Homo sapiens: one gene and its partners. The protein of the gene in region 1 purifies or fractionates together with the protein of each later gene. This does not show direct contact. Each region holds a gene or a part of one and is shown on either strand. Other genes may lie near its edges. The genes, in order: CA2, ACOT1 and EPB41.

Region 1 (3,651 bases):
TAGTTTATTTATATTTTGGACTTAGGAGAAACTGTTGACATTCATTACGGTCTTTAGTCTGTTACTCCAGTGCATCTTAATTTAGTTTAAGTGATTAGGGAGAAAAAATTAAAAAATATTAAATGTTCAGCTTTTAATTTGTATAAGTAATGTGATTCATTTCAATATTACTGGATTTCTTATTTTTCTCAAAAAGTAATTTATATAATTTCCTCAAATAATATGTATAGGAAGAAAGATTATTCTATAACATTATACTTAGTGCTTGTTTTGTGTTATATACAGAGTATGTATAATTGATGACAATCATGAAAATTAAAATTGGCTGGAGCTCTTGGTGTTGAGATTTGAATTTAAATTAAATTGGGGGGGGTCTTGAAAAAAACATTAGAGTAGAAAACTGTATTTATGTCTCCATCCCTCACAGAACCCATTTCTGGGGTACAATGAATCATTGACTCTTTAAAGCACCACTGCCATGGCTGGATTTTACAGAGAAAAAATAGGCAGTTAGCAATTTCTGCTATTTTTTAAAATTATTTTTACATTAGAAAATAGATTTCATTTTAAACTGCAACAGTTTAGAAAATGGCATGTAGTCATTTAAATAAATAAGTAGATCCAGAATATAGCATAAAGTCCCTAACTTAAACCAAGATATTATGTTTTATGTTTCTCAAATAAAAAGTTTGAGTTTATGGCAATTTATTATAACAATGTTTTTGAAGGACTTCATTGACTAAACTCCATGCTAAGAGTTTGCCAGAAATGCTGCCTTCTGTAGCAAGTAAACTTTAAGGATTTAATAACATTTTCTAGTTACAGTGGGTTTCTAATCTTCATAGGAACAAGTTTTATTTTAACAGGGGCTAAAACAGGTATCTGGTGATAACAGATTAGCACTGAATGTGTTTAATCATTGAGCCCAGAGCACTTTATCTTTTTTTTTTTTTAGTGTTAGCTGTTAGCAAGTATTGTTTACTAAAGGTTTGCACACACTCTTGCCTAATTCTAAATGTTTTTAGAAACAAATTAAGATGAAACTTTAAGATTTGTTAGAGAAAGAATAAGAAACAGCAATAAACTTTATTCTCCTTAAAATGTAAGATCCTGCTATGATTCTTCACTGGGGGGAAAGAAGATACATTTAGAAAATTGGTTATCTCAGATTCTTAGTATGGTTTTAGTTAGTTAGTTTTACCACTTGGTAGAGTTAATGATTTGACAAATGACATTTGCTTCTTATTATCAGCCAGTTGGTTGCTAGCTTTAAAGAGTTATTATAAAGGATTTTTTTCAGTATTAATTTATTTCATAAACATATATTTAATTTTTATATATTATTATGAAAAAAGGGAATTATTTCATTCTTTTTTAAAAAAGTCTAGAATTAGAGGCTAATATTTCCTTATAGAATTGTCAGGAAACAAACTGTTGTAATAAGTTGTTTTTGTGTTCCAAGAGATGTGACTTTGTCAGAATACATCCAAATTCATATTTCTTAGCAGATCTTTAACATAACACCATTTATAATTCTTTCTGTTTTCATTCTTCCTTTTTTCTCCTGGCCTATTGTAAAGCAGATCTGGCAGCCAGAGGTTGTATCAGGAACCACAGAAAGACCCCACTGCTTAAATATCTTCAAAGCAGTCTTTCACTTTGAATAGATGAATGGATATTGCTACCATGTAAGGATATTTAGGTGAAGCTCATGAACAAATCTTGTTGTACAGAAGTTATCCCTTTGTTCTGCAATGCCAAAGTAAATTTGGGCTCATTATTTTATGGAATTATAAAGTAAAGCTAATAAAATACACTTATAGCAACAAATGTTTAATTCCCAGTACTAGAAAAATAAAATTTAAATTGTAGAACTAAACTACTTTTAAAAGCTTTTGAATATATTGGTTAAATCCCATTAATACATACAAAGTTAGGCACAGAGTTTCTTGGTGGATGGAAGAAAGACTGATTTCACACTATTTTAATCCTCTGTCAAGACGCAACTTATTAATTATATACAGATAGTTTGTAGCCGATGGATGTGATTTTTGTTACTGATTTTGCTTAATGCAGTTACATTAATGCCAGAATAGTAGAATCGTGGAATAGTTATCAAGTTAGAATTTTAAGTTCTTGGAGATAATAGAGCACATTACACTGCATATAGAAGATGATCCATAAATTATTAGTGAAATAGTAAATGATTTAGTGTGTCCACAGATGAGTAAATTAAGGTCAAAGAGGTTTAATAAAAATTTTCGGCCGGGCACGGTGGCTCATGCCTGTAATCCCGGCACTTTAGGAGGCCGAGGTGGATGGATTACTCAAGCTCAGGAGTTCCAGACCAGCCTGGGAAACAAGGCAAGACTCTGCCTCTACTAAAAATACAAAAATTAACTGGACATGGTGGTGCACACCTGTAATCCCAGCTACTCGGGAGGCTGAGGCACGAGAATCGCTTGAACTCTGCTTGAGGCGGAAGTTGCAGTGAGCCGAGATCGCACCACCGCACTCCAGCCTGGGCAACAGAGCAAAGCTCTGTTTCAAAATAATAATAATAATAATAAATAAATAAATAAATAAATAAATAATAAAAAAAATTAAGGGAACAAAGCTAGCCAGCAGCAGTGAGAGTCTAAATTCTAAAGAATTTGGGAAGCCTATATAAGGATAATTGGATTTTGCAATGTTAAGATCAATGGAATACTGATTTCACAAATTCGGGTGTCTAAGAACTGGTATCAGAGGTTAGCAAAGCAGGCTGTATGGCAGCAATCGGGCCTTGGTGGAAGAGAGGGTCTCACGTTTGCAAGTGTGTGTAGCAGACCAATTTATTGGCCAGTAGCTGCATGGGCACTTCCTAAATGTTTCACAGATTATTAGTTTCACTTAGAATTTTCTCTCTCTGGACCTGAATCTATGACTCTAAAACAAACCCAGAAAAAGGAATCAGTATGCTCAGAAAGAAAGATGTGAAAAACATCCATTCTCCAGACAACGCATGTGAGGAATAAAAACAGGTAAAGTGATTTTGTTCAGCACCGTAGACTAAACTTGACTCTGGATTGAATTTTCAGAGTAAAATGTGATTAAAGGCAAACATTTAGTACTGTAAAACAGAATTAAGATTGTAATATTTAGGCATGTGTTTCATGTGTGTGTATGTATGTGTGTATACCTATGTATATATGTGTATGCAGATACATACATATATGTTACATATATATATATGTTTTAATTTTAGTGCTCAAGGGAGGACCCCTGGATGGCACTTACAGATTGATTCAGTTTCACTTTCACTGGGGTTCACTTGATGGACAAGGTTCAGAGCATACTGTGGATAAAAAGAAATATGCTGCAGAAGTAAGATATACTTTTTTTTTTCTTTCCAGGGAAAAATGTTTATAAGTTGATATTTAGCATTAATTTCAAAAGCTTAATTTGTAAATTCAACTCACGCCCAGTGAACCACTTCTTTTACAAAGGACCTTCACATTTGCTTTTTATAACCTTTAATTGTGACATCATACTTAACGCTGCAAAACTTTCTCTACTGTCTCCAACTCCACCATTTGCAAAAAGTAAACGGACTCAAACTGGAGGATCCTGTTTTAACAGAAATTTAGAAATAAAATGTGTGCCTTCTGT
Region 2 (3,751 bases), on another chromosome or scaffold:
CGGCGAATTTTTTGTATTTTTGGTTTTTTTTTAGTAGAGACGGAGTTTCACTGTGTTAGCCAGGATGGTGTCGATCTGCTGACCTCGTGATCCACCCGCCTCGGCCTCCCAAAGTGCTGGGATTACAGGCGCGAGCCACCGCGCCTGGCCCCTTTTTCTTGTTAGAGACAGGGTCTTATCCAGGTTGGTCTGAAACTCCTGGCCTTAAGAAACCCTGCCACCTCAGCCTCCAAGTAAACTGGGATTATAGGCGTGAGCCACCTCACCCAACTTCCACTTCCCAGCTGTATGATCTTCAGAAAATCAGTTAAATTCTCTGGGCCTTAATTTACTACTACGGTTCTTGTAAGTATTAACAATTAGCTACTATTATTTACCTTCTTTAGTTCCTGAGACTTCTATGCACAGAATATACTTGATGTGTGCCACAGAACCTATACAAAGGTAATTACAACTAACAGGGAGTTGTATGATAATGACATGGGACATGGGACATGAGAGCATTTGGAAAGAGATAAAAAGGCTTACCTTGAGGACAGCCTTATTAGGAGCAGAGGCAAACACAGGTTTTGTGAGTTTGAAGCTTACGCATTTATAGGTTTCTCTAATTACCAAGATAGGAAATTATGAAATCAGGTACAAGGGCTTGGGAGGGGCCTAAAGCTTAAGTTTGATGAAAAAAAAAAACCACCTCTGGTTGGAACCAATAGCCTATGAAAAAGTAGAAAAAAGCCCAATGCATGGGGAGCGCCGGTAGTCCCTTGAGGTGTTTGAGAGGCTGAGGCAGGAAGATGGCTTTAGCCCAGGAGTTTGAGGCTTGTAAGTGCGCAGTGATGGTAAACCGCCGCTGTACTCCAGACTGGCAACGTAGTGAGACCCTGTCTCTTTAAAAAAAAAAAAAAAAAAAAAAAAAGATGAGAGGTAACACTTGCCTGACTGGGACAAAAATGAGAAACCAGTATAAGAAAATAATAACTATTGGCCGGGCGCGGTGGCTCATCGCCTGTAAATCCCAGCACTTTGGGAGGCCGAGGCGGGCGGATCACAAAGTCAGGAGTTCGAGAAATTAATAACTATTACCTCATTTGGCTATTTTTACACCTGTAAGGAATAAAGCTCAGAGGTCACACAGCTAGTAAGAAGCCAGCACCCTTCGATGTGGGAGTGATGTGGAGGATAGGCATATACAGAGAACACGAAAGCAAAACACCATGGTGCAGATTTTGAAAGAAAAGCCCTAAGATTAGTAATGAGTGTGAATTATTCAACAAAGTGATCAAAACCAACTCCAGTCCTGCATTCCTCTTCGCCATCAGGAGTTTGGAGCCTGGAGACTGCTAGCTGCCTGGTTGTTGTTGTTTTTTTTTTTTTCTGAGACGGACTTTCGCTCTGTCGCCCAGGCTGTAGTGCAGTGGCATGATCTTGGCCAACTGCAAGCTCCACCCCCCGGGATCACGCCATTCTCCTGCCTCAGCCTCCCGAGTAGCCGGGACGAACCAGTCCTGGCCCAGCCCATTCCGCGAGCCAGCAAGCTTCTGAAAAGCAAACCTAGGAAGTTGCTTTCCAACATAAAGTGGAGGTTTCAACACAGGAGACTTTAAGCAAGTTCCAGTGTGTCTATATTTGGTCTGGCTGATCGGCTGGACTCTGGCCTTCCCCGCTCACATTAGCAGACAGCTCTGCCCTAGTGGGCGTTTAGCCTGCGACGGCAGCCCGAGAGGAAGAGTTGGGCAGAGTTGCAGGGGTCTCCACAGCTGAGGCAGTTTGGCCGGATTATTTGGGTTCCTGCTCGGATGGCGGCGACGCTGATCCTGGAGCCCGCGGGCCGCTGCTGCTGGGACGAACCGGTGCGAATCGCCGTGCGCGGCCTAGCCCCGGAGCAGCCGGTCACGCTGCGCGCGTCCCTGCGCGACGAGAAGGGCGCGCTTTTCCAGGCCCACGCGCGCTACCGCGCCGACACCCTTGGCGAGCTGGACCTGGAGCGCGCGCCCGCGCTGGGCGGCAGCTTCGCGGGGCTTGAGCCCATGGGGCTGCTCTGGGCCTTGGAGCCCGAGAAACCCTTGGTGCGGCTGGTGAAGCGCGACGTGCGAACGCCCTTGGCCGTGGAGCTGGAGGTGCTGGATGGCCACGACCCCGACCCCGGGCGGCTGCTGTGCCGGGTGCGGCACGAGCGCTACTTCCTCCCGCCCGGGGTGCGGCGCGAGCCGGTGCGCGCGGGCCGGGTGCGAGGCACGCTCTTCCTGCCGCCAGGTGACTCACCTCCGCTAATTGTTCCCCTCTGCCCATCCCTGTTCCTGCGCTTTCCACTGTGTGTGTGTGTGTGTCCCCTTCGCCCCGCCCCGCTCTTTTCGCTTGTGTGTGTGTCCCTCCTCCCGCCCCACCACCACCACCCCGGGCTATGTTGCCCAGGTAGGTCTTGAACTCCTGGACCCAAGCTATCCTCCCGCCTCTGCCTCCCCAAGAGCTAGGATTGCAGGGTGAGCCACTGCGCCCGGCCCTTTGAGGGGAGTTACACTTATTTTTTTATTTTTATTTTTTTTCGTCCCTGCGCTTTTCATACGGAGAAAGGATGTAGCTTCCAACATTCCGGAGGTTAGTGTAAGGAGACAGGAATGGAATGGAAAGTTGGTTGGGGAATTGCCCCTGCCGCTCCAAAACTGAGAGGTCCCTCAAACCTAGTGCTCAGTTAAAAGACATTGTAAGGGCTGGGCGCGCTGGCTCACGCCTGTAATCCCAGCACTTTGAGAAGCCGAGGCGGGCGGATCACGACGTCAGGAGATCAAGGCCATCCTGGCTAACACGGTGAAAACTCGTCTCTACTAAAAATACAAAAAATTAGCCGGGCGTGGTAGCGGGCGCCTGTCGTCCCAGCTACTCGGGACGCTGAGGCAGAAGAATGGCATGAACCCAGGAGGCGGAGTTTGCAGTGAGCCAAGATCGTGCCACGCACTCCAGCCTGGGCAATAGAGTGAGACTCCGTCTCAAAAAAAAAAAAAAAAAAAGGCATTGTAAGGAAAGAGAAAAGACACATAATATTAAAAACAAACAAAACAAAACAAAAAAAACAGGCCGGACGCGGTGGCTAACACCTGTAATCCTAGCACTTTGGGAGGCCGAGGCAGGCGGATCAAGAGTTCGAGACCAGCCTGGCCAACATGGTGAAACCCCGTCTCTACTAAAAATACAAAAATTAGCCAGGTGAGGTGGTGCACACCTGTAGTCCCACCTACTCGGGAGTCTGAGGCAGGAGAATCGCTGGAACCCTGGAGGCAGAGGTTGCAGTGAGCCGAGATCACGCCATTGTACTCCAGCCTGGGGGACAAGAGTGAAACTCCATCTAAAACAAAAACAAAAACAAAAAACAAACAACAACAACAAAAAATTTTCAAGTAGTTTCAATGTTCTTATTTATGTATGGACCAGGAAGTCACTTTTTTTTTTAATAAAAAGAATTCCAACTGGTTTTCTCACTGTATTTCCATGGCAGCTAGGAGGTGCCAGGTGGCTGGGCCTGTGACAGTGCAGAGGTTTTGGTGCCTGCCCGCCCACCATTGCTCCAGCTGCAGCTGCTGCCCCCTGCAGGGCCTGTTCGTTCCTGCTGCCTAGCTCCCTGCTGGCTGGCTATGATCTCCGTCCTGTTACCATTCCAGGAGAGCAGCCACCTCCCTGTGCATGGCAGGACCAGGTACTGATTGTGGCCTCTCCTCTTGGCCTCGAATGGTATCCTTGTCATCAGTGAGCAAGTCCCCAA
Region 3 (3,637 bases), on another chromosome or scaffold:
GTCTGCACTAGACAGCAAAAGCAATGCGGTGAAAGGTGTTTGAGGTTTGGAGTGAGACAGACTTGGGCTGAATCCTGACTCTGCGACCTAATTGGTTATATGTCCTTGAGCAACTTATATTACCAACCTGAGCTCTAGTTTTACCATCTGTAAAATAAGGATGATCACAGGTTTCTTCCAGGGTCATAAGGGCCAAACACACTTGGTAGCTCAGAGAGATGCTCCAGTGTCCCTCAGGTTTTCTAGTTACTGAGAGTGCATGGAAGGGGTAAGCTATGGTACACTCTGGCTGGCGAGGGAGGCACTTTAAGAACTGTTAAGGAGAAGCAGTGTGGAGCAGCAGGTTTCATAGAGAGGTGGGCGGAGGCAGAGTCACAAAGAGAAGACTTGAGCTGGGCCTGAGGTGTGAGCAGATGGGTTGGGCAAACAGGATCAGGGAGGATGGTCAGGGGCCCACAGAGGTGGTAGTTCTAAGAATGCCATTCATAGAGCCAGGAGACCAGAAGAGGGTTTTCCTTCTTCCCTTGCCCCTTCTAGAGATGGTTCTTAAGAGCCAGGTGAGTAGTCAGCTGGTCATTTCTAGCTGAGTCCTTTTCCATAGGGGAGCCTGCAAATTCAGAGACTGCAGCCCAAAGAGGATGGTGTTTTTGCTCTTTTGACTTTCCCTCTGCTCTCTTTAGCTTTTCTAAAGTAATCAAAGCTCCTCCAGATCCTCAAACAGGGACCCCCTCAGAAACTAAACAACAGTGTGGTAAAGAGGAAAGTCTGATCGACTTGAGTTAAAATCCCTATTGCACGGCTGGGTGCGTTGGCTCACGCCTATAATCCCAGTACTTTGGGAGGCCGAGCAAGGTGGATCACCTGAGGTCAGGAGTTCGAGACCAGCCTGGCCAAGGTGGCAAAACACTGTCTCTACTAAAAATACAAAAATTAGCCAGACGTGGTCACGGACACCTGTAACCCCAGCTACTTGGGAGGCTGAGGCACAAGAATCGCTTGAACCCAGGAGGCAGAGGTTTCAGTGAGCCAAGATCACACCACTGCACTCCAGCCTGGGCAGTGAGACTCCGTCTAAAAAAAAAAAAAAAAAAAAAAAAGTCCCTGTTTCACTACCTACTAGCTATGAAACAGTAAGCTCTTTACTGAAATTCAGTTTCCTCACCTATAAAATGCAAAAAATTACATTACCTTAATGCACTAAGTTGTCATGTTTAAGTAAAAAGTAATGATAATAGTTATTATCTTAATAACAATATAGTTATTAATAAATTATAACTTAATAGAGTTTAAGTAATAAGTAATGTACTTAGGCTAGTGCATGGCATATAACAGTCCCTTGTCCTCTTCCTTCCTTTCTTCTACTTTGGCCAAGGACATCTCTTCCTTTTTCTTGCACACTTCTTTACTTTCCTCTCCCGTCCTGAACTTGCCACTTACCCATGCTGAACACAGATGTTGTTTTGTCCTTTAGATTCACATCTTGAGTGAATCCTCTCAGACCCTCCAGGTATAATGATAGATAATAGATAGGTATAATAGATAATATAGGCCAGGTGCAGTGGCTCACACCTGTCATCCCAGCACTTTGGGAGGCCAAGCCAGGTGGATCATTTGAGGTCAGGAGTTCGAGACCAGTCTGGCCAACATGGTGAAACCCCATCTCTACAAAAAATACAAAAATTAGCTGGGCGTAGTGGTACACACCCGTAATCCCAGCTACTCAGGAGGCTGAAGCAGGAGAACTGCTTGAACCTGGGAGGCGGAGGTTGCAGTGAGCCGAGATTGCACCATTGCACTCCAGCCTGGGTGACGGAGCGAGACTCCATCTCAACAACAACAAAAAATAAAAAAAAAATAAAGGATCATATAACAGATACAGCTATGACCCCCGAAGTCCCTCTCCAGTTCCTAGAAGACAGCGCTAACCTTCCCTGTCCCTGTGTTATCAGTCCAGAAGCCTCCCTATGCAGGATAGGGTGGGTAAGGTAATTATCAGCTTGGCTTAGCCTAAAGCTGCCCTGGTACTGCAGACAGGAGTATTGGATCTGTCAGAACATCAGAGAAATGATGACCACTGCCTTCCTTCGCCATCAGGCTATTTTCTGCCTCATTGCCCTTGTTTCTGTCTTTTGTAGGTCCTTGTACAAGCCATCAAGGAGGCAAAGGAGCAGCACCCAGACATGTCAGTGACCAAGGTGGTCGTCCACCAGGAGACCGAGATTGCTGATGAGTGAGCTCAGGTACTGGGCGTTCCTGCTGGGGCTGAGGGTGCCCACAGTCCCAGCCTGAGAGGGCTCTGGATGGGACCCTCGGACACACTGGGAGCCCATCCCCACAAAGAGGTGTTCACCCTGGGACTTGATAAAGGCAGACGAGAGGCTGATGTGGGAGATATAGGAAATTAAGTATTTGGCTCCAACTAAAGCAGCCTGTAGCAGTGCCAGCATTATTGGGTAAGAGGAGGGACCCAAACTTGGATATAAGCCCCCAGCTACCCTCTGAGTCTTCATGCATCCTGCTGGAGATCCACTTCACCTTCCCCCTCTCTTCTCTCTACTGCTCTGCTTGCTGCTGTCACAGGTCTCTCTTTTTTTTTTTTTTTTTTTGAGACGGAGTCTCATTCTGTCACCCAGGCTTGAGTGCAGTGGCATGATCTTAGCTCACTGCAACCTCCGCCTCCCGGGTTCAAGGAATTCTGCCTTAGCCTCCCAAGAAGGTGGGACTACAGGCATGTGCCACCATGCCCAGCTAATTTTTGTATTTTTAGTAGAGACGGGGTTTCACCATGTTGGCCAGGTTAGTCTCGAACTCCTGACCTCAAATGATCCACCTGGCTTGGCCTCCCAAAGTGCTGGGCTGGGATTACAGGCATGAGCCACCGCGCCTGGCCAGTCACAGGTATCTTTGAGCCAGAACCTGGGAAAGCCAGAGGAGAAAAAACCAAGAAGAGCAGGATCAGGCTGTCTGGAGATGGGTGGGCATGCAGAGCAGGGAGGTAATGGCTGAAGCTCTGAGACCAGAGTAGAGAGCTGGGAGCAGGGAAGCTGCTTTTTGGGAACCAGGGATCCAGATAAATTCATGCCTAAAAGTAATTTTAAAAAGACTTGAAGAAGCCACCAATCTCACTAGGTGGGACCAGGCCCTGTAAACCTGCTCACATCCCCATTGTCACTGATGGCCACAGGAACTTGGCAATGGGACTAGGAAGCTTTTTCCTTTGCAGGATTTTAAATTTTGCTTCTTTGTTTTCTCTAGGAACTAACCTACCCCAACTCTGCCCTTCTCCCATCCAAGAGAAACCAGCAAAATGATAAAGAAGCTAACCTGCCATAGTCAGACTTCAGACTTTCAAGATTATTCTAAATCACCAGAAAATTAATTTCAGTTTCTATTGGGAGTTTATACCAAGAGATTCTTCTAGATCTCATTGATCCTTTTGAAGAGCTTTTTCTATATTAGGATATCAGAATTGTTCAACTTTTCACTCTATAGACTGTTTTAAGAGTTTTGGGGTTTTTTTAATTGGGTGGTTTGTAACCCCTTCAGCCTAGCCTCTCTGCCCATTTATTTCCAACCCCAACAGACACTGACAGGGTCCATGGAATTCTTCGGGAAATCCTCCAAGGACTCTTGTCAG

The links.
Region 2: the proteins of CA2 (region 1) and ACOT1 fractionate together in Homo sapiens (co-fractionation; one large-scale study listed by BioGRID). This does not show direct contact.
Region 3: the proteins of CA2 (region 1) and EPB41 purify together in Homo sapiens (affinity purification with mass spectrometry, with the first as the bait; one large-scale study listed by BioGRID). This does not show direct contact.

The regions. Positions count from the first base shown.
Region 1 is NC_000008.11:85,470,446-85,474,096, forward strand, and holds part of CA2 (carbonic anhydrase 2), read left to right. Parts: intron 1-3,247; coding exon 3,248-3,366; intron 3,367-3,651. UniProt on the Homo sapiens protein: Catalyzes the reversible hydration of carbon dioxide. Can also hydrate cyanamide to urea. Stimulates the chloride-bicarbonate exchange activity of SLC26A6. Essential for bone resorption and osteoclast differentiation.
Region 2 is NC_000014.9:73,535,629-73,539,379, forward strand, and holds the start of ACOT1 (acyl-coenzyme A thioesterase 1), read left to right. Parts: upstream 1-1,514; 5' UTR 1,515-1,793; coding exon 1,794-2,250; intron 2,251-3,751. UniProt on the Homo sapiens protein: Catalyzes the hydrolysis of acyl-CoAs into free fatty acids and coenzyme A (CoASH), regulating their respective intracellular levels. More active towards saturated and unsaturated long chain fatty acyl-CoAs (C12-C20).
Region 3 is NC_000001.11:29,113,564-29,117,200, forward strand, and holds part of EPB41 (protein 4.1), read left to right. Parts: intron 1-2,135; coding exon 2,136-2,234; 3' UTR 2,235-2,240; intron 2,241-3,255; 3' UTR 3,256-3,637. UniProt on the Homo sapiens protein: Protein 4.1 is a major structural element of the erythrocyte membrane skeleton. It plays a key role in regulating membrane physical properties of mechanical stability and deformability by stabilizing spectrin-actin interaction. Recruits DLG1 to membranes.